7 linked regions of the Homo sapiens genome follow. The protein of the gene in region 5 interacts with the protein of the main gene of each other region in a biochemical or structural test. Each region holds a gene or a part of one and is shown on either strand. Other genes may lie near its edges.

What was found.
Region 1: the proteins of LNX2 (region 5) and KCNA7 interact in a test that uses a peptide from one of them, tested with the Homo sapiens proteins (one large-scale study listed by IntAct).
Region 2: the proteins of LNX2 (region 5) and CLDN18 interact in a test that uses a peptide from one of them, tested with the Homo sapiens proteins (one large-scale study listed by IntAct).
Region 3: the proteins of LNX2 (region 5) and RSBN1 interact in a test that uses a peptide from one of them, tested with the Homo sapiens proteins (one large-scale study listed by IntAct).
Region 4: the proteins of LNX2 (region 5) and ADGRA1 interact in a test that uses a peptide from one of them, tested with the Homo sapiens proteins (one large-scale study listed by IntAct).
Region 6: the proteins of LNX2 (region 5) and CLDN2 interact in a test that uses a peptide from one of them, tested with the Homo sapiens proteins (one large-scale study listed by IntAct).
Region 7: the proteins of LNX2 (region 5) and ARHGAP6 interact in a test that uses a peptide from one of them, tested with the Homo sapiens proteins (one large-scale study listed by IntAct).

Annotation. Positions count from the first base shown.
Region 1 is NC_000019.10:49,069,900-49,073,852, forward strand, and holds the start of KCNA7 (potassium voltage-gated channel subfamily A member 7), read right to left. Parts: upstream 2,801-3,953; 5' UTR 2,687-2,800; coding exon 2,132-2,686; intron 980-2,131; coding exon 164-979; 3' UTR 1-163. UniProt on the Homo sapiens protein: Mediates the voltage-dependent potassium ion permeability of excitable membranes.
Region 2 is NC_000003.12:138,013,165-138,016,664, reverse strand, and holds part of CLDN18 (claudin-18), read right to left. Parts: intron 1-3,500. UniProt on the Homo sapiens protein: Involved in alveolar fluid homeostasis via regulation of alveolar epithelial tight junction composition and therefore ion transport and solute permeability, potentially via downstream regulation of the actin cytoskeleton organization and beta-2-adrenergic signaling.
Region 3 is NC_000001.11:113,774,477-113,777,976, reverse strand, and holds part of RSBN1 (lysine-specific demethylase 9), read left to right. Parts: exon of another isoform or gene 1-157; intron 158-168; coding exon 169-306; intron 307-624; coding exon 625-767; intron 768-3,500. UniProt on the Homo sapiens protein: Histone demethylase that specifically demethylates dimethylated 'Lys-20' of histone H4 (H4K20me2), thereby modulating chromosome architecture.
Region 4 is NC_000010.11:133,094,424-133,097,923, reverse strand, and holds part of ADGRA1 (adhesion G protein-coupled receptor A1), read right to left. Parts: intron 951-3,500; coding exon 823-950; intron 1-822.
Region 5 is NC_000013.11:27,565,030-27,568,529, forward strand, and holds part of LNX2 (ligand of Numb protein X 2), read right to left. Parts: intron 2,811-3,500; coding exon 2,611-2,810; intron 1-2,610.
Region 6 is NC_000023.11:106,926,902-106,930,401, reverse strand, and holds part of CLDN2 (claudin-2), read right to left. Parts: intron 2,352-3,500; 5' UTR 2,174-2,351; coding exon 1,481-2,173; 3' UTR 1-1,480. UniProt on the Homo sapiens protein: Forms paracellular channels: polymerizes in tight junction strands with cation- and water-selective channels through the strands, conveying epithelial permeability in a process known as paracellular tight junction permeability.
Region 7 is NC_000023.11:11,659,421-11,662,920, forward strand, and holds part of ARHGAP6 (rho GTPase-activating protein 6), read right to left. Parts: intron 1-3,500.

The sequences.
Region 1 (3,953 bases), on a different chromosome or scaffold from region 5:
AACCACACAACCCAAGACCCAACAAGACTCAGTGTTTCCCCACTCGTTACGACTTAACCTAGCTCTTCCTAAACCCAATCCCCTCCCCCCAGCCTTGCCCTCCACCCTGCCCTCCCTCCCTCCCTCTAGGGAGGTGTGAGGTCCTGCAGACCTCAACTGTTCCTCACACTTCGGTGACCAGGTGTTTCCCTGGGGGTGCCCAGAGTGGAGGTGGTAGCTCAGGTACCTCCCCGTCCACCAGCCCCCCATTGGCCTTGCCCTCCAGTGGGCCACAAGGCTGCATGTCCACATGGCTGAACATCCCAGCCTCTTCGCCCTCTGTCTCCCGGTGATAAAAGTAGCTGAAATTGGAGACAATGACGGGCACTGGCAGGGAAATAGTCAGCACGCCCGCAATGGCACACAGAGAGCCCACTATCTTGCCACCCACAGTGACGGGTGCCATGTCTCCATAGCCAACTGTAGTCATGGTGACTACCGCCCACCAGAAGGACTCAGGGATGCTAGTGAAATGGGAGTCCACCCGGTCAACTTCGGCAAAGTAGACGGCGCTGGAAAAGAGGACCACACCGATGAAGAGGAAAAAGATGAGGAGGCCCAGCTCACGCATGGAGGCCCGAAGCGTCTGGCCCAAGATTTGCAGGCCCTTTGAGTGCCGGGACAGCTTGAAGATGCGGAAGACACGCACCAATCGGATGACTCTCAGGATGGCCAGTGACATGGCCTGCTGGCCCACCCCTCGCTGCCGGGCCAGCTCGGTGCCCAGTGCCACAAAGTAGGGAAGGATAGCCACAAAATCGATGAGGTTCATCACGTTCTTGAAGAAGATAGCCTTGCTTGGACAGACCAGGAGGCGTACCAGCAGCTCAAAGGAGAACCAACAAATACACAGCGTCTCCACCACGAAGAACGGGTCATTGAAGGGCAGGCGGGGTGGATTTCCAGGCATTTGGCTGGAGCCATTCAGCGGAGCGGGGAACTGCAGGGAGGAAAGTGTTCAGGGAGGGTCAGGCTGGGGCTAGGACACGGGGACAGCCTTAATCATCATTTAAATACCCAGCTCCTCTTTACACATTGGTCAGTAGCCGCTGCGCCAAGGCCCTCCGTGACCTGGTTATCCCAGACTTCCTCCCAGGATCCCAGGGATCATCCCTGGGCCGCTGACTTTCTGGTTGCCTGACCTGGTGGGTGGCTGGAGACGTGGTCCCTGCCCCTTCATGCGTGGGAACTCATGTTTGAGTAGGGTGCAACCTCTTCTCTCTCAAAGTCCCGCCTCCAGTGTTGATTTTCTAGATGGGGAGCATCCCTGCCCTGGCCCCACCACCTTGTGCCTAGCTTTTCCTTGCCCTCCACAGTCCCAGCCCAGAGTATAATGCGGCTGGGCGCGGTGGCTCACGTCTGTAATCCCAGCACTTTGGGAAGCCGAGGCGGGCGGATCACGAGGTCAGGAAATAGAGACCATCCTGGCCAACACGGTGAAACCCCATCTCTACTAAAAATACAAAAATTAGCCGGGCGTGGTGGCCTGCACCTGTAATCCCAGCTACTTGGGAGGCTAAGGCAGGAGAATCGCTTGAACCCGGGAGGCAGACCTTGCAGTGAGCCGAGATAGCGCCATTGCACTCCAGCCTGGGCGACAGAGCAAGACTCTGTCTCACAGGAAATAAAAAAAAAAAGACCTTCTCTGCAAGCCGAGCCCTAGGCCCCCTCCTCTGGCCCCTCAACCTGGCTTTCTTTCCATAGATTCCTCCTACTGTCGCCCCTCGGGCTCCAGCACCCTCAGCTGGAGTTATTCAGGGCCTGGCTTTCACCACCCAGCCGCACAGACTCCGGAGTTTTCAGGCTCTCCTTGGCCCCCCTCAGCTGTGATTTTTAAGGTTCCTGTCCTCCTACCCCTTGCATCAAGGGCCCTGCCCTCTTCACGCCGGGTTTCTCACTGACCTCAACCCCACCTTCTGATGGGGCAGGTCCTCCGACCCGGATCCTCAGGCCCCGCCTCCCGCCCACCCTGTCTTCGGCTGGCCCACCCCTCGCAGCCCCTGGCCCCGCCTTATGATTGGCCAGGTCCCCTCTGGACCCCGCCCATCTCCTCCCAAACCCCGCCCGTCTCCACCCACGCCCCGCCTCTCACCGGGCCGGCTGCGGCTGCAGCAGCAAGCCCCGTGCCGTCGCGGTCGTCGCGGAAGTCAGGCAGCGTCTCGAGGCAGAAGACGACGATGGAGACGAGGATGACCAGCACGGAGACTACGGCGAGCACGCGCGCGGCCTGAGAGCTCTCGGGAAACTCGAAAAGCAGCCACAGCTGGCGGGCGAAGGCGCGGCGGGGCAGGGGGCGCTCGGGCGGCACCGGGCAGCCCTCGTCCTCGCGCAGGCGTGCCAGGGCCGCCGCGCCCAGCCCGTAGAAGGCCACCTCTTCCAGGAAGACGTCGAGCGGCACGTGCGCCGGCCGCCGCAGCCGCCCACCGGACTGGTAGTAGTAGAGCACGGCGTCGAAGCTGGGCCGGTGCCGGTCGAAGAAATACTCGCGGCGCGCGTCGTCGTAGAAGCGGCCGCGGCGCGCTGGGTCCCCTAGCAGAGTGTCCGGGAAGCGGCCCAGCGTGCGCGCCCGCGTCTCGAAGCGCAGCCCGGCCACGTTGAGCACCAGCCGCTCGCAGCAGCCGCACGGCGGCGGGCACCGCGGCTCCATGGCGCGCGCAGCCCCGGCGACCCGCGAACCGACGTGTGGCCCCGACGCCCGGCCCCGGTGCGGCCCCGCCTCGGCCGCCTCGGCCGCCGCCGCCGCCGCCCCAGCCCGGTGTCCGGTGTCCGGTGTCCGCGCGTAAAAATAGCCCGGCAGGGCGGCTAGGGCGCGAGGGAGGGGGCACTGTGACCCCGGCGGGGCGGAGGGCGACAGGGCGACCGCGCGCCCTCTGCCGGGACGCCCGCCCTGCCCTGCCCCGCCGCCGCCGCCGCCCGCGCCTGCTCTGCGCCTTTCCCGTCCCGGGGTCCCCTTTCTCTCCGTCCTTCTGCCGCCGGGATCCTGTCCTGCGTCTCTCCAAGTTTCCGTGTGCGTGTGTTTCGTCAGAATCAGGCTTCAGTTGCAGTCGCCTCTTTTCTTTTCTCTTTCTTCTTTCTTTCTGTCTTTTTTTTTTTTTTTTTTTTTGAGACACAGTTTCCCTCTGTCGCCCGGGCTGGAGTGCAGTGGCGCGATCTCGGCTCACTGCAACAACCTCCACCTCCCGGGATCAAGCGATTCTCGTGCCTCAGCCTCCCTAGTAGCTGGAATTACAGGCGCCACCAAGCCCAGCTAATTTTTTTTCTTTTTTCTTTTTTAGTTGAGAAGGGGTTTCACCATGTTGGCCAGGCAGGTCTGGTACTCCCGACCTCAAGTGATCTGCCCTCCTTGGCCTCCCGAATTGCTGGGGTTACAAGCGTGAGCCACGGCGCCCGGCCTGGAGTCGCCCTGTTTGCACCTTTGTCTCTCACTCTCTTGTGTGTCTGTGTCCGGCTGTCCCCTCTGGGTCTCTGTCTCTTTTGGGATGTATCTCTGAGTATCTCTATGGGTCATTTATTTCTGAGATTCGTCGTTCTGGGGGCCTCTGTATGGGTCCCTCTGCCAGCCTCTACGTCTCGGTCTCCGCCTTTATTTTGACTCTTGGTCTGTCTCCGTTTATCTCTTGTCTCTCTTGGTCTCTTTGTCTCTCCTCTCTAGGTCTCTTTTTGCTCATTATCTCTTAGCCCTCCATGTCTCTGTCTCAGGGTTCCTCGGCCGCTCCCCTTTGGGTCTCCCCTTGGGGTCTCTAGAGGACTTAGGGTCTCCGGAGTCATATCTCTTGATCTCTCCCTGACCATCACTCCATGTGGGTGCTGCCACAGTCCCGGTGGCTGTCCCATCCTAGGGTCACTCTGGCAGCTGCAAACCACTGAGCATGTGCACACACGCCCCATTCTCTCCCCAGAGTTCGCTCCAGAGT
Region 2 (3,500 bases), on a different chromosome or scaffold from region 5:
TCTAACTGTAAGGCTTACCACTTTACCAAATTTAGCCCAAATGTTTGCAAACACTTTAGAAAAAGCATTACTTGACTGTGATGTCAAGCCAGGGACATGATGGAGCCAGGGACATGAGTTTGCCATATCTTTGCCCCCTCTCCACTCTGCTCATTTTTGGCCCTTTGCTCATCCCTTCTACTGTTTCCAGGGAAGGCATGTGTGAATGGGATGCAGGTCATCCATGCTTTAAACTTAATTCATACTCCTAATTTCACATCATTGATTATATTGTTACAAATGGGTCAACCCCCATATACCCTCTGCGCTTATTGTGCTCAAGCCTAGACCAAGCTCTTCAATTCTAAAGGCAGCCCATTCCTGCCTTTAGAAACAGGGTCTGGGCAGGGGAAAAGGATGCAGACTTAGAAGCTTTGCCTTGTGTTCACTTCCTGTTTCTGCCATCTTCTATCCACGAGGCCTTGGGCATGTCCTTCCCTCACCCCCAGCCTCAGTTTTCAACTTTTTAAACCTAAAGCTAATACATATTTTCCTGATTTTTGTAAAGATTAAGCTGAAGAGCCAATATGCAGCTCAATAAATAGTAGTTATTTTTATTTCTGGCACTGTCCTCAGAGTACTGCATGCTGTATTGACTGTGTAGAATACAATGAGATTGAATCTTGAGGTATCAGTTATACAGAGCTGGTAATATACAAGTATACAGTCCTGCTACCACCACCATTTACCTCATTAATCTATCTGTAGTTTATACAATACAACTTGTTGCATTGAATTACATTCTTCTATAGCTGTAAGTTCCAAAGAGACATGATGATACATTTTTGTCAGACGAATGAAAAGTTAAGTGAGATTTTGCAAGAACAGAGATTGCACTTAGGAAGAATTTAATAACTGGCAATGATTATTATAATTATTTATTTATGTATATATTTTGAGGTGAGATCTTGCTCTGTTGCCCACGCTGGAGTGCAGTGGCATGATCACCGTGGCTTTGAATTTCTGGGTTCAAGTGATGATCCTTCTGTCTCAGCCTCCTGCATTTCTAGGATTACAGGTGCAAGCCACTGTACCCAGTGATAATTATGATTATTAACTAAAGTATTATAGGTATCTGCTTTTTGCCTTTCTGTAAACACTTTAAGGCTTACTTCTCTGCTAAAGAGTGATACTTTTCTGGGTTCTAGGTCAAAATTAAACTCTCTGGGAGAATCATTGCAAACTTACATTTCTCCCTCCAGGCATTTCATCCAGCTCCTCTGCTTCAGGTCTCTCTTCCCCAGTTTCCTCGTTAAGCACAAGAAAATACTTTACACAGCTGTTTCTGATGAGAAGTTAGGCATTAGGTCCTGGCTCGTTGTTACTCCTTCCAGCTCCTTTAGGAGCCCCACAGGTGTCATCTCGGGCTGTTTTATCTCCTTGCATTGTTGCCTTTAGCTTTTGAGTTTCTTTCAAGCCTTTTCCTCCTGGTAATCTTCCTGCCCATTCTTACACTCTTTAAATATTTTTTTAAAAATATTTTATTTTTAGAGATGGATGGAGTTTCACTTTGTTGCCCAGGATGGAGTGCAGTGGCATGATCACAGTTCACTGCAGCTTCTAACTCCAGCTCCAGTGATTTTCCTGCCACAGCCTCCTGAGTAGCTGGGATTACTGGCATACACCACTGTGCCCAGCTAGTTTTAAAAAATTTTGTTACTGTAGAGATGGGATCTCATTTTGTTGCCCAGGCTGGTCTTGAACTCCTGGCCTCAAGCAATCCTCCCACCTCAGCCTCCCAAAGTGATGGGATTACAGGGGTAAGTCACCACTCCCAGCTCCTGCCCATTCCTTATCTAAGTCATCAAATAGATATTTGTATTTTGGGGTGCCAATTTGTAGTGTAGCCACTCCTGCTGCATGAGGACTGTCTGCTTTTAAGTCCACAGTCTTCTTGAAGGCCACAGATTTTCAGTGATTTCAAGTACCTCCTTTTCTGCAAACTCAATCCCAAGAAGTGTTTTTTTCTGGCTTTTGGTGAAATCCTCTTCCCTCAACTCAGATAGGCAGAACTGGGGTATACTTCTGTGGTGGCTGCTGGGAACTATCCCCCAGTTCCCATGGTGGTTCAGTCCAGCTTGGTTTTTCACAGCACAATTGGGAGACAGGACACAGAGCAGCACCGACTTCCCCCTCCCCCAGCCCCCTATGCTTGTTGTGTGCCATGCTGGGTTTTGTAGGAGATGCAAGACGGGCACATCAGAGTCCTCTGGCCACAATCTTACCACCGACAGAGCTTACCAATAGATGGTGTTGTGACCAACAGTTTCCAAGAGCCCTCAGTGCATGGCTACTGGCCCTGACATTCACATTTGCTGTCCTCCAGCTGGGATTTGAGGAAAGTCATTTCTTCCAGCTTCCCTAAAATCCTTCTCAGAGAGCCAAGGACCTCTCCTTTCGTGGGTCTGAAACATCTCAGGGTTCCATGAGTGGCAACTGGCTTCTCTCTCTAAGAGCTCTTTGTCTGGCCTGACACGGAATAAAAGTACCTAGCATCACCAATTCTCCCACCTCTCTTCCTCCCTCTCTTCCTCTCTACTTTCTTCCTTCTCACCTTCCCTCCCTCTCTCCCTCACCCACTGTTCCTTTCTTCCTCCTTACTTTTTGAAAAAAATGTGCTTTCCGCCCCCACCCCCATGGCCATATTTACATTCCTCTGTTATTAAATGTTAGGGAATTTTTACATTGCAGAAATTTACCTTAAACCCCTCCTCTTTCCTGATTCCAGGCCATCCCCACCAAAATGTCTAGCTCTGAAATTACACGCTATATATTATCTTGTGTCAGATGATAGTTTACACATATAATTCTATCATATTTGTTTAAATATAAATTAATGGTATATCTTCTTTTGCAATCTCATTGGTTTTGACTATTTGATGTTCAGGGAATTATCTGTCTGGCAGAACTGAAATTAGTGTGGTTGATGTGTTGCAGCCCAGGAAGTTACTACTCAAATGCTCCCTGTGGTAGAGACAGTAGGTGCTCACCCAATAGCTATGTGCTCCTACATCTCCCAGCTCCTGGGGCCATATGGCTAGTTGTGGCCAACGCACTGTGAGTGACATGTGTTCCTTTCAGATTGAAGCAGTTAAGAACTGTTGTGCCTCCTTCAAGCCTTTCTTCTCTTGCCCCAGCAACTTTGAAGAGTGTAGCTACAAGGAGGCTGCTCTTCCCACAGTGGACTTTATGTGGGCAGGAAGTAAACTTTTGTTGTGTCAAGCCATTGAGATGTTTAGGTTTGTTTGTTGCAGCAGCAGACATTAACTACTCTGACTAATAGAGTTCCTGAACTCTAGTCTCTGCAACACAGTAGGCATGCAAGAGATATTTGTTAAATACATGATTGGATGAACAAATGAATCTGTTCCAGGCAGGAGGAGGACCAGGTCCTTTTCTATATATGGAGCCATAATAACAAAAAATTTATAGTACAAAAATGATTTACTGTCCTTTTTGGG
Region 3 (3,500 bases), on a different chromosome or scaffold from region 5:
TATTTGTCAGTGTGCTTGGGTGCCTCTCTGACTTTATTCAAGGTATTGACCATTCAGTTCTTAGTTTGTAGAAGAAATGGCAACGTTGGAAACAATAACCTATTTTAATTCTTTAATTATATTATAGTTGTACCTCAGTCCATTTTTCCCTCTTTTGTTTTATCTTAGGTCAACAGGACATACTGCTGTGGCACCTACCGAGCAGGTCCTATGCGGCAGATAAGTCTCGTTGGAGCAGTAGATGAAGAAGTTGGTGATTATTTCCCAGAGTTCCTTGATATGTTAGAAGAATCACCATTTCTGAAAGTGAGTGTTAATTAAGATTATTAAAGTTTTGATCTTTACTTAAGTGGGCACTTTATATGTTGAAGAGTATTTAGCTAATATTGCCTATTGAAATTAAATTTATCCAGTGTTTTGCACAGAAATGTTTAGATAGAATAATATTAGTACAAAGTACTTAAATTCAATTATTCTTTTTAATATAAATTACTATGTAAATAGCATTTATTTCTTTATATACAGTTGTAAAAAAGCCTTCTTAGAACTTTTATTTGGGTGGGAGGATTAACTTATAAATCATTGAAACAATTTTTTAATGTGACTAATCCGTCTGATTTCTAGATGACTTTGCCCTGGGGTACACTTTCTAGCCTCCGACTCCAGTGTAGGTCCCAGAGTGATGATGGGCCTATAATGTGGGTAAGGCCAGGAGAACAGATGATCCCTACAGCAGATATGCCAAAGTCACCCTTCAAAAGACGACGGTAAATATTTCTTTTTCTCAAATAAGCAAAACTACTTTTTTTTAGTTGGTTGCTTATAAAAATGAGCACAGTTTGAAAACCATTTGTCTTGGGCTCCCTTAAGTAAATGTTTTAGTTGTCGGTTCCTCTTTTCAGTCCAATCATCACAGTTATCACAGTGAGGCATTTTTCTAAAACACAAATTTAATTTTTACTTATTTTTTAAAAACCTGTGCCCTAACTGCCTGCAGGATAAAAGATCAAACCCCTTAGTGTGGTTTACATTAATAATCAGGTCAACTGTACCTCTTCTAGATGTATCTGTGTTTAGTCTTCTCCGGCCATACCGAATTCACTTTCCAAACCATAGTCTATCATAACTCTTTGCTTTTGCACTATTTTTTTTTTTTTTTTTTTTTTGAGATAGGGTCTCACTCTGTTGCCCAGAGCTAGAGTGCAGTGGTACAATCATAGCTCACTGTATTCTTGAACTTCTGGTCTCAGGAGAGCCTCCCAAGTAACTGTGGCTATAGGTGTGTACCACCATGCCCATCTGATTAAAAAAATTGTTTTGTGTATTTTATTTTTGTAGAGATGGGGTCTCACCATATTGCCCAGGTTGGCTTTGAACTCCTGGCCTCAAATGATCCTCCTGCCTCAGCCTCCCAAAGTGCTGGGGTTACCGTCCCACAGCAAACTTAATACATTTTCAAAACTTAGCTTGAGCTGGGCACAGTGGCATATGCCTTTAGTCCTAGCTACCTGGTAGGCTGAAGTAGGAGGATCAGTTGAGCCCAGGACTCCACGACAAGATCCTGACTCAAACCCAAACCAAAACCAAACAAAACTTAACTTGGACGTCACCTCCTTTGTGAAGTTTTTCTTTCCTTCCTTAGGTAATTAATTGTTCCCTACAATGTTCTGTTCATTAAAGTTTTGTTTACATGTTTTTATTTTCTACTAACATTTGAGGTGTGCTTTGGGAAGACAGGGACTATTTTATTCATCTTTGTCCTCATGACATATACTAGGTAACCAGTATTTGCTACATGAAACCAATAATGTTCTATAGGACCGAGCCTCAGTAATTCATATTGTGCTAACATGTTTTGTGTTTCAGACTTTGAAGACAAATGTAGATTAACTCACTCTCTAGTACTTTGAAAAATCTAATTTAATGAGACTGAAAATGATCTATACCTGCTTAGACTACGAAAATAGCAATTCAAAATAAGTGCCCAGAAGTGAGTTTTAATGGACTAATCTAAACCTTAACTTAAGGCTCATAGGAGAATGATACTTGAGCTAAGTATGGAATAATCTTAGGTACTTGAAATGTATGAAAATACTTTGAAAACATTATGTACGATGCAGGGTGGTGGCATGGTAAAAACCCAGGAGTCATTTGAAAGTTCTGCACATTGCTAGATTATAGCAGTTTTTGTTGCAGGATGATGACGAATCTTGAAATCTTATTAAATTGTTAAATACTATATACATTTTTTGTTCTGTAATCTTTCCTCAAAAAATGACCATCATTTGTTTCCTGATTTTTATAAACTTAAGAAAAAAGTAATAGGAAAGAGTAAAAAGAGGGCAGGTGCAGTGGCTCACACCTGTAATCCCAGAACTTTGGGAGGCTGAGGCAGGCAGATTGCTTGAGTCCAGGAGTTCAAGACCAGCCTGGGCAACATGACAAAACCCTGTCTCTAGTAAAAATACAAAAATTAGTGTGGTGGCACGCTCCTGTAATCCTAGTTACTGAGGTGGTTGAGGCATGAGAATCGCTTGAACTCAGGAGGCCGAGGTCGCAGTGAGCTGAGATGGTGCTTCTGCACTCCAGCCTGGACGACAGAGTAAGACTCATCTCAAAAAGAAAAAAAAAAAGAAGAGTAGAAAGAAGGCAGGCTGGGCATGGTGGCTCACACCTGTAATCCCAGCACTTTGGGAGGCCAAGGCAGGCGGATCACCTGAGGTCAGGAGTTCGAGACCATCCTGGTCAACATGGTGAAACCCCATCTCTACTAAAAATACAAAAATTAGCTGGGCATGGTGGCAGCCGCCTGTTATCCCAGCTACTCGGGAGGCTGAGGCAGGAGAATTGCTTGAACCTGGGAGGCGAAGGTTGCAGTGAGCCGAGATTGTGCCACTCCACTCAAGCCTGGGGGACAAGAGCAAGACTTCATCTCCAAAAAAAAAAAAAAGGTAGCCACCATTTAGGCATATTAACCTTTCAAATTATATATAGCCATAAATAATCTTTTTACAAAATCCATTCTTTGTGTGATGTTTACTTTAAAACTTGGGAATTTTTACTGTATGGTTGTATCAAGATTTATTTAACCAATTCTTGGTTTTTGTTTTTGTTTTTTCTTTGAGACAGGGTCTTACTCTGTCACCTAGGCTGGAGTGCAGTGGCATGATCAGGGCTCACTGTAGCCCATCTCCCAGGCTCAAGTGATCCTCCCACCTCAGCCCCACCAAGTATCTGGGACTACAGGTGCCTGCCACCATGCCTGGCTAGTTGTTTTTTGTTGTTGTTGTTGTTGTTTTTGAGACAGAGTCTTGCTCTGTCACCCAGGCTGGAGTGCGGTGGTGCGATCTCGGCTCACTGCAAGCCCCTCCTCCCGGGTTCACACCATTCTCCTGCTTCAGCCTCCCAAGTAGCTGGGACTACAGCCTCCCGCTATGATGCCCGGCTAATTTTTTTTTTTATTTTTAGTAGAGATGGGGTTTCAACGTGTTAGCCAGGAT
Region 4 (3,500 bases), on a different chromosome or scaffold from region 5:
GATCAGGGACCTTGAGAAAGAGGCCCCCAGAGTGCCTCACCCTCCACATGCAGGGACACAGGCAGGGACACAGGCAGTGGGTGCCGTCTGTGAGCCTGGAGCTGGCCCTCTCCAGACGCACCAGACACAGCGTCATGGGTGCCTTGATCTGGGACCTCGGCCTCCAGAACTGAGAAGTCAGTTTCTCCTGTCGATAAACCATCGAGGCCCCCGTGTTCTGCTGCAGCAGCCCAAACAGACCAAGATGACAGTTTCGGAACCGCCCAAGCCTCTTCCTGTGATCACAGCCTCGTGTGTGCCCGAGTCTCTGATGAGACTGTGGCCCTGGGCGCCTCTAAGCTCTGTCCGTGACCGAGGCGACCTTGGCCTCAGACATAGCCGAACCCCCGCCCATGACTGGCTGTGGGCATGCCCACCCTGACTGCGGCTGGACACCCTCATGTTCTTGGTGCCTCTCCCAGGCTCTGCAGGCCATAGTGACTGCCCGGGGGAACTGAGCTCCTCAGGGTGCCTGGACGGACACCACACCTATTTCTGGAAGAACTTATTTTGCCCAGTTAAGGACACGGGGGATGCCGTGGAGAAGACCCTGACGGAGGCCTGAGTGGACAGGCGCGGCTTCCCTGAGCTCCATCCACCCTTCGGCTGTGTGATGGGCACCAGGCTGCTGAGCGGGTCTGAGCTAGCTGGTGACCTGAGTTGTACCTTCAAGGACTTCTTGCTACATGAGGGGGCAGTGGCATTGCCCTTCAGGGACTTGCCTTTGAAGGTAAAAGCAGGTTTCTTGGGCACAGGGGGCGCCCTTGCCCATGCCAGGCTCACCTCTGGTGCACGATGTAGGTGACGAAGGAGGCCAGGAGGCAGAGCAGCATGACGGCCGTGCACGCGTACACCACGGGGTGCAGGAACTCCCCTGGGTAGCGGGGCAGGGAGAGCACTGTCTTCAGATCCTGAGGATAAAGCAAAGGAGACGTGTGTGACTGGCTGGTGGGTCTGTGTGGGCGGCGCCGTCGCCTGAGCCTACCCTTGGGGCTCGGCTTCCCCTGCAGCCGCTCCAGGCATTTTCGTGTGGGGTCTCAGGGAAGGGGGGCTGCCTGGGGAGGTACGGTCAGGCTGCGTCTGTGGATGCTCAGGGAGTGCACGGGAGGGGCCCCACGTGGCCACGGAGTGCTGTCTGTCCTCGCCCTCCACTGGCTCTGCTGGCCAAAGGCATCCTTGTGTGGCTCTGAGGCTGGCTCCTGGGGCCATGTATCGGCCGACTGATGCCTGCCTCCAGCCTCCTCTCTTCCCGTGGCCTGCGGGTGGCCAGGTGGGATCTGGATGGGCCTTACAGAGAGGCAGGGAAACCATGGGATGGCCCCAGCCCTGCACTGGGAGCCCCACACTCATCGAAACCCTGCTTGTCAACATCTTCCGGGAGGATTCTGTACGAGCTTCTGCGAGAGGTGGAGAAAGAGTGGAGACTGTTCGGCACCAACAGACCTGGACCGGAGGCCGCAAACTCCACCTGCTTCTCGGCCCAAGAAAAGGGTTCAGGGTCAGAGTTCAAAGGGGAATGTGTGTTCTCTGTGGCAGAGTAGACTGGGGGAAAATCGACCCAGCTGGAAAGGCTTGGAGCTGATGGAGCTTCATCTTTTCTTCATCAGGTGAGTGAGGTGAGCTCACCGGGGAAGCACAGAGGGGTGCACAGGCTGGGGAGGGGGCTTCAGGGGCATCAGCCCAGAAACATGCGTGCACAGGCCCAGGAGGGGGCCTCGGGGCACCAGCCTGCACTCAGCTCTGTCTCAGGCTTCCAGCCTCCAGACTGTGGGAAACATGTCTGTGCTTCAGGGCCCCACTGTGTAGGGTTTAGTTATGAACCTCAGGCAGGCGAGCAGGGTGGGTGCCATGTTCCGGTAAGAACCCTGTGGGTGGGTGCCAGCAGGGGTGAGGGCTGCAGCCGCCTGGCCCCTCCCCAGCCCCCTGGTGATCGCTGCACCTGTGCCAGGCTCCAGCCACTCTGACCACGCCATGGATGCTGCCCTGGGCATCGGGGCAGGAGGAGGCAGCCGGCCGGGCCTCTGGGATGGCTCCGGCTGAGTGAGGCGGGAAGTGGAGAGGGACCCTCCTGTGCAGGAAGGGCCATGGGCAGAGGCAGTGTCACCTGTGTCGGGATGCAGGCAGCCAGCGGGCCCGAGAGCTCCTGCTTCCCTCCTGAGGCCACACTTCTTGTCCGTCCAGCCAAGACGAGGCCCTGGCTGGCTAGAGAGTGTCCACCGTGGACAGAGGGTGCTCTGGGGAGCCAAGGGACTGGCTGACAGTCAAAGCCCGAAATAGGGCCCCTGCCCCAGGGTTCGAACAGCACTGGCCAGGCGGGCACCGGAGGGGCCCTGCATCCCGGGACGAGGAGCCTGGACCTGTGCGAGGGCGAAGGCACCTGGGAGAGGAGCGGGCGTCGCTGTGGGGCCGCAGAGCTGGAGTGACAGCAGACACTTTGCTTTCCGGGGAGTGTTTAGAATCTGCCCATTTCTTCCTGGACACCAGGACCCCACAGAGAGACAGCGCCCTGTGGTTCAGGCTTGGCTCTGAGGCCCACCCTGGACAGAGGCCCCTGAGGGTTTTCGGGGGAGTCAGGGCCCAGGAGAGCCCCACCCTCACTCTGCCCCTCTGTAAAGAGGTGAGCTGGGTGGGCCTCTGTCCAGATTCTCCTGAGTGCCCCAGAGCCCGAAGCGTCAGTTGCCTCCTGCAACAGTCGTGGGGTGAGTGTCCGGTCCGAGCTCCAGCTGGGGCTCCTGCTTCCCCCAGAGATCAGCCCAGGGACAGCCCGGCCAACTGTGGACATTCGCACGTCCCTCCTTGGTGTTCTGGCTACTGGAGTGCTTGCCATCAGGAGACGATGCATGGGGGCTCTGGCGTGGCTCGGGCGGTGCCAGGCTGGTTGTCCCACGTTTGCTGGTTTAGTAGGCGCCCACTTCCTGCCACGTGCAAACAGCTCCAAAGTCACAGAAAAGCATGTTTTCCCGGCCAAATCCCGACATCAGGTTATCCAGTGAGTTATCTGCTGCTGGGAGGTGGAGAATGCCCCATGTGGGTAGAAGAACTGAAGTTTTAACAGGGCGTGAGCGACGCCCCAGATTCTTGTCCCCAGGATTCTTCCACGAGAGTCAATGGCTTTTCCTCCAAGACATTGACCCAGGGTCTAAAATAAACCTGAACGCTCTACACAGTTCCGACGAGCCATTGTTGCAAACCCAGATCCGCGAGAGAAGCCAAGAGAGTGGGGTCCACTCTGTGTCCAGCCCTCTCCGAGTCTATCGGAGCATTTCCTCAGTGAGTCGCCTGGAACAAGGACTTCGTTCTCATCTGTTGTGTTGAAGAGCCTGGGGTGGTCTGCCCCGGGCCCTCACGCGTCCTCTCACGGCCTCCCTGGGGCTGCTGTGGCCGCCGCGCCTTCCTGCAGGACTCAGACTCCTGCTCAGCTACGGGGGCGAGGGGCGGTGCCACTGTGGGCGGAGGCGCAG
Region 5 (3,500 bases):
TCATTAAACTAGATGTAAGATTGCCATTATTGGAGTTATTAGTATACAGGTTTCCATAAACAGTAATAATGCAGTGGAATTTCTACAATGTAGACTTTATAACTGAATTAATTCCCAAAAATATGGTTGATAATTTCAGATAATTACAATCTTTTGAGGTCTAAAGATTCAGTAGTGTTAATGAACCATTCTCTAAAATAGAAACAAGCCCACTGATGAAATGTATTAGTAAAAAAACTTAAACAAATCTGTTATATTCAAAGAAATATAAATAAAAACATTTGTAACAATACTGGGCTAGTAGCAAAAAATAAGTGTACACTTACATTTCAGCTAAAAAGCCCAGAAGTGGGAGAGTCAAAGAACACTCAGTGGGCTGCAGAAAAGGACTATCTGCCCTTCCTGGTCCTGACCACCAAAGTGTCAAGATGTCTGGGAGGATGAACCTGGGAAATGAGCTGTAAGAGTCGCTCTCTGCAAAATCAAGTCAGGAGCTAGGATGTAAATAATACAAGGGGTCCTACAAGTTGTGCCAGCCTGTGCAGCTAAAGTACTAATATCATAAAATGCAGCTAGGATAACTAAATAGCTAGCTATGACAGGATCAGAAATCTGATTTTATATGAGCTGGATTAGTTATGTTCCTGTATTCGTCTATTACATCTAAGTATTTGGTAAAAAAAACACTGTTTGAAAGCTCAGTCTGTCTCAGCCATGCCTAGGGGTAATGAAGGAAAGGTTTTAGGCTTGGTGTTAATTATTTTCAGGAATAATACACCATGAAAAGCAGCATACAAGCGGGAGTGGAAATCAAACCCAAGAATCCCTAGTAGGGTCAATCCTGGCTGCCTTTGTAGACTCCCATAGCCCCAAGTCTAGAGATTTCTTTTCAACAACTAAAAATCCTAACCAAGTTTTTCTTTTAATAAAGGAGATGGCTATTCCCAACAGCATCTTATATTCAAATTCACTCTTTTATTGACTCAGCAAATATTTTCTGAGCACTTACTACAAGCTATGAGAAATCTGTATCATAATCTGTACCATTAGGGTGGTTGCAATTACCTTAGATCATGCCTACATACGTAAAATGTTCAAACAATTCTCTGTAACTCATCACGTGCCAAGTGATGAAGAGAAAAGTGATGAATGCCAATAATAACTAATGTAGGAGGAATCAGTATGGGGGAGAATGGCTGAACAAAAGCTTTAAGGATGAAGGTGAACAAACTGGCTCATGAGATGAGGACAGGCTGCAATGTGGGAATAAGGTGTTTGCAGGGAAGGAAGAAGACTGCTATGTCTGGCTCTTCCACTAGATTGTATATTCCACGAGGACAGGTCAGTATTTTGCTCTGAAATGTACCACCAGCAACTAGTATAGTGCCTAGAATGTTGTGAGAAATGAATGAGCTGGTGTGCCTGAAATGAAGAATTGAGATTAACAAGACAGGTTGTAGAAGAGACCGTGGAGGACCCTGACTATTAGATTAATCAGTCTGGACTTGACCTCCTAGTTGAACCTTTGCAAGGCAAGCAGGGTTACTGATGTATTAACCTGGCAGTGATTGTTTCAGATTTAAGGGAGGAGAGTTGGGAGGCAGAAGTATATGATGGGGTATTCTACTAAATTAGATATGAAGAAGAGAAGTCCTAGACTCAAGAAGTGGCAGGAAAATGGAAGTAGGGGGTAGATATCAACAGGTCATGGTGAAGGACCGAACCACAAATCCAAGGAGAGAGAGGAGTCCCTGCGCTTGGGTTGACAGGAGACATTTTTTCTTGTTCATGAATATTTCCTCTCTCTCCTAGAAGTTATCCGTTTTTAAGCTTCAATTATTATCACCTTTGTATGATGAAAATGGTCCAGGCCGGTATTAACATCAACTCCGGGATTGTAGAACTCTTACCATCCTCCTCCCCTCATCTCAACTTGCCCTCTAATAAAATATCTTGTCCCATGCTAGTTATTTCTGGAGAATACCTGTTTCTTCTTAAAGATCATCTTCTGAAAGGGAAAACAGTAAGGGGAGCGAAGGGGATTATTGAAAATGCAGAGTTAGAGTGTTTGCTGAGGAGAGTGCATTAGGGAGTTGATAGGAGATGACTGCAAGATTTCTGAACTCTATCTTATAATCTGTGGTATAAATTATGAGTGCTGCATGGTTCCTTCTTTTCTAGATTTTAGTAGTCTGTATAGAAAAGGATAAATCCAACAATGAAGGTAATGAATGGGAAAACTGGGTATAAAATAATACCAATGAGATGATAATTTCAACATGGATGAAGGTGACCCTTGAACAGTCATTCAAGAAGTCCAAGCAGGAAGAGGCTAGTCAGCCCAAGGAAGAGTCTAGCTAGCTCAGCAAGCCTGAGATCATGTGCCAAGCCACATCGCATGCAGGAATGAAAATTAAGATAGGAAGAAAAAATACTCTGTGTATATGGGAAAATACCACAAATTACACATAAATTCTGATGTTTTGCATATAGAAACAGTAAAACTAATCTATATATAATTTAGGTTCCAAAACAGCACAATTTTCTAAGGTTTAAGTGTTAAGAATGGAACAAAAAGGCACAAGTTAACAGAATAATTAAAACTGATACCTGAAGAATCTGGTCTCCAGCAAGAAGTCTCCCGTCTCTGGCAATGACCCCATCCCGATAGACCTCCTGGATGACAATGTTAATCAAAGGTGTTTCGTTGCCACCCACAATGCTGATTCCTAACTGAATGTAAGGATTGGACCGATGAATTTCAATCGTGGTGATTTCTCCTTCTGGTAAACTAAGTGGCTGTTGTGTGGCTGCCAAGTTAAAAATGAGACAGACAAAAACAGATGTTAAAAAAATAAACAAACCCAACAATTTATATTCTGATTATCTTCAGGTAAGTATGTCACATTAATACATGATTAACAGCTAAGCAGTATCACTGGATAAGAAACAAAATGACAAAATATCTGTTGTTAAGATTATCTAAAAATTTTCTCTACTAAAACTGATCAGTAAATAATAAATAGCTACTATGTATCAGATCACTAGGGACGACACAGTGATCTGATTAAGAAATATGAAAAGAAAGTCATTCTGTCCTCATTGATGAGAGAAAATTTGGACCACGAAACAACTGTACATAATGAGAGGCAGTACAAAGGAAACACTAGCTCTGTGGCATAGAAACAGCACAGGTGTTGAGAGAGTAGCCACATCAAGCTCGTAAGAAGAGGTGGGTCTTGAACGGAGACGTAGGAAATGAAGAAGGCGCATAGTTGCGGCAAGGAAAATTCAAATTTGTAGTAGAGCTTGGAAAAAGAAAATCATTTTTAAAAGGAAATATCAAGGGCCCACTACCATGATATGCCCAAGATCCATGACTACGGGCCTTCTGTTAACTTCCTAGTGGGTAACAGAGCAGTGGCTGGTACCAGAGGTGTATAACGGTGAGATGCATGGTCTTGGAGTCAAATACAAACCCAGTCATTTACTGGTTGTAT
Region 6 (3,500 bases), on a different chromosome or scaffold from region 5:
CTGGTGAGGGAAAATACCTTTGGTGTATGACCCCTCACTCCCACTCCAGGGTAAAGGGAACATTTTCGGACCTTAGAGGTGGAACTGTCTTCCTGGGAACCATTCTCCACTCCCACCTCAGCTGCAATCCCAGGCAGCAGTGCAGCTATCACTCAGATCATGGACACAGCACCGTGGGCATGGATATGCCATGCTGGAGCCCTTAGATGCCCTCTAGCCACTCTGGAGCATCTTCCGATGGACAGTGGGGGAATCTGAAGGGGCTCGCTTGGTGCTATGGTCTTTCAGAGGCTCTGTAGTGCTCTGTGGGTGGACCCTGGGGGGGCCTGATCTCATTTGAGCTGATTTTCCATTACGCCTGAAGAGTTTCTAGGGGGCTGCCTCTCACTGGCAGAGTAGAAACACCCACTGGAGCCACCACACACATCCACCTGGCTTCTTAGACACCGTCAAGGAATGGTGTCTTCCTCAGTACCCCACAGCTCCCACACTGTCATCCCCCAGCCAAGGGCCATCCCTAGAAAAACTGGTTTACTGTTCCTAAGGAAACCATTGTCTATAGCCCTTAGCCTTGTGGTTTAGGCAAGAGGCCAGGTCAGGTGCCCTAGAGTGAGGCAGGGGCTTCAGCCAAAGTTGTGATCGCAGCTTCTGAGGCAGTTCCTCAGTGGAGTCAGAGTCCGCTGCCACCTGAGCTTTCCACCAGATCTTCTTTCCTTTCCTTGTGCTTTCCTCAAGCTGCAGGCTTGATCCCAGCCCACAAATATGAGAGAATTCTGGAAAGTGCCCTGAGAAATGGGTTCTGGGTTTTTTTTTCATTTTTATTTTTTTAAATGTCCCAGGCTGCCTTCCTGTCCTCCCATCCTGCATCCTGCTTTCTGTTCCCTGGATACCGTAGGATGGTTTTATTTCAGTTCATGCACAAATTAGTCTGGACACTGTGGAGTCATAACAAGAGTGGGATGGAGGTTCCAGGGCCAATCAGTTTCTTTGGAGGGAAGCTTGAGAAGTAGGTTAGAGCAATGCCCACAAAAGCCACTGCTTCTCCTTCCCATCCCCAGCAATGAGCTAAGAGCCAACCTCAGCCAGAGAGAGGGTCTTTGATCACAGAGGGTCAGTCAGTGGGATGTGATTAGTGGGTTTGGGGATGGAGTCCCAGGTAAACCAGAGGGCAAAGGGATCCTCTGAGTCCTGGCTTAAGGGAATGGGGTTTCAAGTTGAGGGTTGGGGACTTAGGGCAGGGGAGCAGCAAGGTGAGGAAAACAGAAAGGCTGGCATGGCGAGCATCCTTGGCAATTCAACCTGCATGCTGTTACACTAGCCCCCATTTCTGCCTTTGCTCAATCCAATGGCCAAAGTCAGTCTATCCTCAGCAGCACCTTCTGACACGATCCAGTGGTAGTGTCCCTCACCTGTGGCCCTCGGGGTGCTGTCCACTGTTTTTCACAGACCCAGCCACCCCCCAGCTCTGGCCCCTGGTTCTTCACACATACCCTGTCAGGCTGTAGGAATTGAACTCACTCTTGACTTTGGGAGGTTGACCAGGCCTTGGAGAGCTCCTTGTGGCAAGAGGTTGGGCTTGGTAGGCATCGTAGTAGTTGGAGCGATTTCTCTGGGATGAGCAGGAAAAGCAGAGGATGATTCCAGCTATCAGGGAGAACAGGGAAGAAATAATGCCCAAGTAAAGAGCCTCTCCAATCTCAAATTTCATGCTGTCAGGCACCAGTGGTGAGTAGAAGTCCCGTAGGATCCCATGAAGATTCCAGGCAACAGGAATGAATCCCAGGAGGCCTCCAAGGATGAAAAAGACTCCACCTGCTACCGCCACTCTGTCTTTGGCTCGGGATTCCTGGCAGAAGACTGTGCATCTCATGCCCACCACAGAGATAATGCAGGCCAGGGAGGAGATTGCACTGGATGTCACCATCATGGCCTGGGCAGCCTGGATGTCAGCGGGCAGGCCCAGAAGGGTGCTATAGATGTCACACTGGGTGATGCCTGTGCTGTGTGTGGCACATTCCATCCAGAGGCCCTTGGAGAAGCCAACTGCTGTCACAATGCTGGCACCGACATAAGAACTTGTTTTCCAGCTGGGGAGCAGCATGGCAACCAGTGTGCCCAAAAGCCCCAGAAGGCCTAGGATGTAGCCCACAAGTTGGAGGCCAAGAGAGGCCATGGCAGACCTCTCAGTAGAAGCGTCTTCAGGGACTGCTCCCTTGTCTTCAGGCTGAAGCTCTTGCTCCTTGAACACCTCTAATCCCTCATTTCAGAGTCTCTCTGCCAGGCTGACTTCTCTCCTCCTTACAAGTGTCTGTGGGTGGCCACAAGCAGCCTCAAGAAGGCATCTAGAAGACCTAAAAAAAATCCATAAACCAGATTAAATATTGACCAGAAGCTTATGAGAAACCAGAAAACGCTGGATGCCTTTTGACCTTTGTTATCTTTAGAAATAACACATGAGAAAGGAAAAAAAAAACAACTTTGAACGTGGAGCCAAAATGTCATCGCCTCCTGCGTAGGCACATGCCTTAGGTTGGCAGCTGGACAAAGCCAGGAGCCAGACAGGTGGCTGCTTTCCGGGAAGGTGATGATGGCAGTGGTGGTTGTGGTGGCTGTGTTAACTCAAGTGCTAGTCTCCAAGGCCTGCTGTTTAATACATTGCCAAGCAACAGTGCCATAGGGCCCCTCAATTGCAGACTGAGGCCAAACTGCAGACTACATCAGGAGGAACAGATCCTAGAATGTAGTCTTGGACTCCAGTTTGTTAGAGGCCTCTTGAATCTCCAGGGGCCTAGAGAGTAGTGGCCTAGCCCTGGATCATTCTGCCCATGGTGAAAATCTACTCCAGGGTAGATGGGGGTGGGCAGCAAAGCCTTCTGTCCATACTCTGAGAGTTCAGATCCTCCCAGCCATGCCCAAATCCCCCTCTGCAGCCTAGTCTAAGGCCTCCTGCATGTATAACATGCCCAGACATTTCCTGTCCAGTCTCCTAATAGATGCTCCCATCATCAGCCTCTTGGATGATGAGGGAGCACTCTGGAACAAGGGTTCCAGGACTGAGAGGGGGCCCTGAAATTCCCTGGGCCATCTGTTAGGGGGGACAAGAGTCTGCCACAGAGGAAAGGGAAACTGCTCTAGAATATAGGGCTTTGCATGAGGCAGGTATCTGAGTCAATGCTTTGGAATCTCAGAGCCATATAAGATTTTGCCGTGTTCAAGGAGCCCTCGGTGTTGCCAAGATTCAGGACACTAAGGGTCAAGGGCACACCTCCCCATTCTCTACAAGACCCTCTGATCCACTAATTTTTCTTTCTTTCTTTTTGAGACAGGTTCTCACTTTGGCACCCAGGCTGGAGTGCAGTGGCATGATCTCGGCTCATTGCAGCCTCGACCTCCTGGGCTCAAGTGATCCTCCTGCCTCAGCCCCACAAGTAGCTGGGACTACAGGAGCGCATCACCACACCTGGCTAGTTTGTGTGTGTGTGTGTGTGTGTGTGTGTGTG
Region 7 (3,500 bases), on a different chromosome or scaffold from region 5:
TGTGGGGCTGTGCACTGCAGGGTATTTAAAAGAAGCATCCCTGGCCTCCCACTAGATGCCGGTAGGAACTCCCCTGTGGTAGACAGAATAATATACCACCAAAAATGCCCACGCCCCAATCCCTAAAACATGTGAATACCTCATAGCAAAGGGAACTTAAGGTTTCAGGTGGAATTAAAAGTCACTAATCAGCTGACATTAAAATAATGAGATTATCCTGGATTATCCAGGTGAGCCCAATGTAATCACAAGAGTCCCGAAAAGAGCGAGAGAGAGAAATGACCACACAAGAAGAGTGGATGAGATGCAACTTGGCTGGCTTTGAAAATGAAGGAAGGGGGCCACTGGAAAAGGAACCACAACAGATCCTAGAGCCTTCAGAAGGAACACAGTCAGGCCAACACCTTGAAGTTAGCCCAGTGAAACCTGTTGGGATTTCTGAGGTCCAGAACTGTAAGACAATAAATTTGTGTTGCTTGAAGCCACTAAGTTTGTGGTCATTACAGCAGTGATAGGAAATTAATACACCACCACTTCCAGTTGTGTCTTCAGACACTGCCAAATGTCCCCTGGGGACAAAGTCACCTCCAGGTTAAGAATCACTGCTCTACACAAGTCCAAACTCCTGAGATGAGCACAGTGAGACGCTTCGTAATTACCACTATCCTACCTGTTGAACACTATTATCCTGCACACAGCAAGATACATCCTCTTCTCCAGGCACCCCAAACTTCACTTGGGCAACACTCAATATGCCTTCACTCTCTGCAGTTGTGATGCCCAGGGGCTCCTTGGAGAGTAATGTGCTTTGACCAGTCTCTCATTTTTGTTCATACCCATAATTATCCCCCCAGTAGAGGCTGGGTGTGGTGGCTCATGCCTGTAATCCTAGCACTTTGGGAGGGTGAGGCAGGCAGATGGCTTGAGGCCAGGAGTTCAAGACCAGCCTGGCCAACATAGTGAAACCCAGTCTCTACTGGTGCATGCCTGTAGTCGCAGCTACTGGGGAGGCTGAGGCAGGAGAATCGCTTGAACATGGGAGGTTGCATTGAGCTGAGATCGTGCCACCGCACTCTAGCCTGGGCAACAGGGTGAGACTCTCTCTCTCTCAAAAAAAAAAAAAAAAAAAAAAAAAAAAAAAAAAAAAAAAAAAAAAAACCCAACAGGTCTGATTTCTGACTTTATTCGGTCAGGCTTTTATTACATGAAAAGCCATGTGGTTGTACGTGTATCAAACTGCAGGTGCCCTAACCTGCTCCTCCAAACAAATTATTGCGCTTAGGGCCCTCTAAGTCTTCTTTTTTGGGAGCTGTAGAATCACCAACACCTCTGCGCCTTTGCCTGTCCACTCTTTTCTGCCTCATGAAGGCATCACTTTCCTTCTTCTCCTTAGAAATGGCAGTCATCTTTGAAGATCAAGTTTAAATGTTCTCTGGACAGTGAAGCCTTTCAAGGCCCCCCAAAGCACAGTGAATCATCACCCGCCCCTCTCTGTTCCCTCATTCTGCTGATCTTCTGTATTCCCCCTATCAGTTAACTCACCTGTCCCCTCATTAGACTATGAGCTCTTTAGCCTCTCTGCATTCCTAGTACCTACAGAAATGCGTATGCTCAAGAAATGCTTGTGCCATGAATGAAGAAAAGTATAGACGCCAGTGATATATAGAAATCATTTTAATTATGGGTTGCAAAAGTTGGCAAACTCCAGGTTAGCTATGGACATAATCCCAGCTCTGATCCACAAGAATTAGGAGAAGCTCAGGATTGAAATGAGACTTTATTCCTTTGCCTGTGATCAGAGTCAGGGGCAGAGCTTGGCTGCTAAGAACACAAGTTGAGAAACACGTTCCAACTGTGTTACCACGTACCATTTACCCTTTGTCTCCTCCATGTTTCTACTCAATAGATGATCTACCCAGCATGTCCAGGAATCAGATTTTGTTAAAGCAATCCTGAAACACGTAGTGAGGAAATGCTAACAAGATCGTAGCTGACTTTGCCTAACACTTCCCAGGTTTAGGCCATAAAATGGTCATTTGTAAGCTTTGAACGAGCACAAGTAACAAAGCTGCAGGCATTTGTGAGAGTCTTGGGAGCAGGGGCTGTTGTATGGACAATTTACGTTAAAAGCAGACAAGATTCTGAAAGAACAAAGTGGGAAATGGATGAGATCCATCAATGGCTAAACCTGAAGGTGAATTCTTAGGATTTCATATGGATTCAATGGAAGAGAAATAGAAAATTTGAACAGACTGTAAGGGGTACATGACTCCAGAGGGATCCTCGTGGTTTTGGAATCAAACGAAGGCGCCAACAAAGTTTAGGCCAGCTGTAAACACTTCTGTGGGCACTCTCTTGATGGCCAGCATGGGGTACTATGGGCAACCTCACTAACGCAGCAGTTCTCAGTTAGGGCGATTTTGATCCCCAGAGGATATTCAGCAGTGTCTAGAGACATTGTTTGTTGTCACACTGGTCTGGAGGAGTGCTACTCGCATCTAGTGGGAAGAGGCCAGGGGTGCTGCTAAATACCCCGCAATACCCAGGACAGCTCTGTAGCAAAGAATCATTCAGCTTCAAATGTCAATAGTGCCAAGGCTGAGAAACCCTGAGCCAGAGCAACCAGAAAAGTTCAAGAACCAAATCTATATGAACCAGATATTCCCTCCAGGGCCTCTAAGCAGCCTTGCAAGATGCTCATTGGCTGACATTTTGATGTCATTAGTAAAGACTCTCCTTTAAGGACCAAAGACTCAGCTTGCCTGCAAGTGAAAAGGACAGGCAGTGCCCAATAGGATACATTTTCTTGGTTTTTCAGAGGGTTCCAGGGCGTTAAACCTTTGAAAGGTAATCCAGGCCATTAAATTAGAGATCCAAGGGTTATGTTAGGATATCTTGGCCTTTATTAAACAAAACCAGGGTTGGAGCTACATGCTAGAGTTCTATCCAATCACTCCATGCCTGCCTCAAGCATAAAGGAATTTCCAACACACACACACACACATACACACATATTCTATGAGAAAATTCTGGCTTTTTGCTAGATGGCTACATCCTTAGTTTTAACCACCATGAAAAGGTAAAAATCATGGTAGATGAGTTTTGTGCAGACTGCCCACTGTATGGAATAGAAGCCACCCAGTATCACTGCAGTTCAGATCCTTGTCCATTAATTATGAGATGCTAATGGATAAGAAGATAATTTGCAACAAGTGAAATCATCTACAGCCACATGCCTTTTGGTCATAACAGTAATGAGCAGCATCTGTATACTATATTCCAAGTATGTATATGGTTGCTAAGAAAAGCAGAAATGTTCTTAATGATGCAATTAGTTTTAAGCACGAATGTTAGCTAGCTAATCCAAAATGCTGGCTTGCTTTTGTATTTCTCTTTCTCTCAACTTGTACAGATTAATCTGATAATGTGTGCTTCTGAAATACAATGAGAATCCAGCCCCTCCTAAAGACCAAGAGAAATTCAACATTTCAATTTTTGAT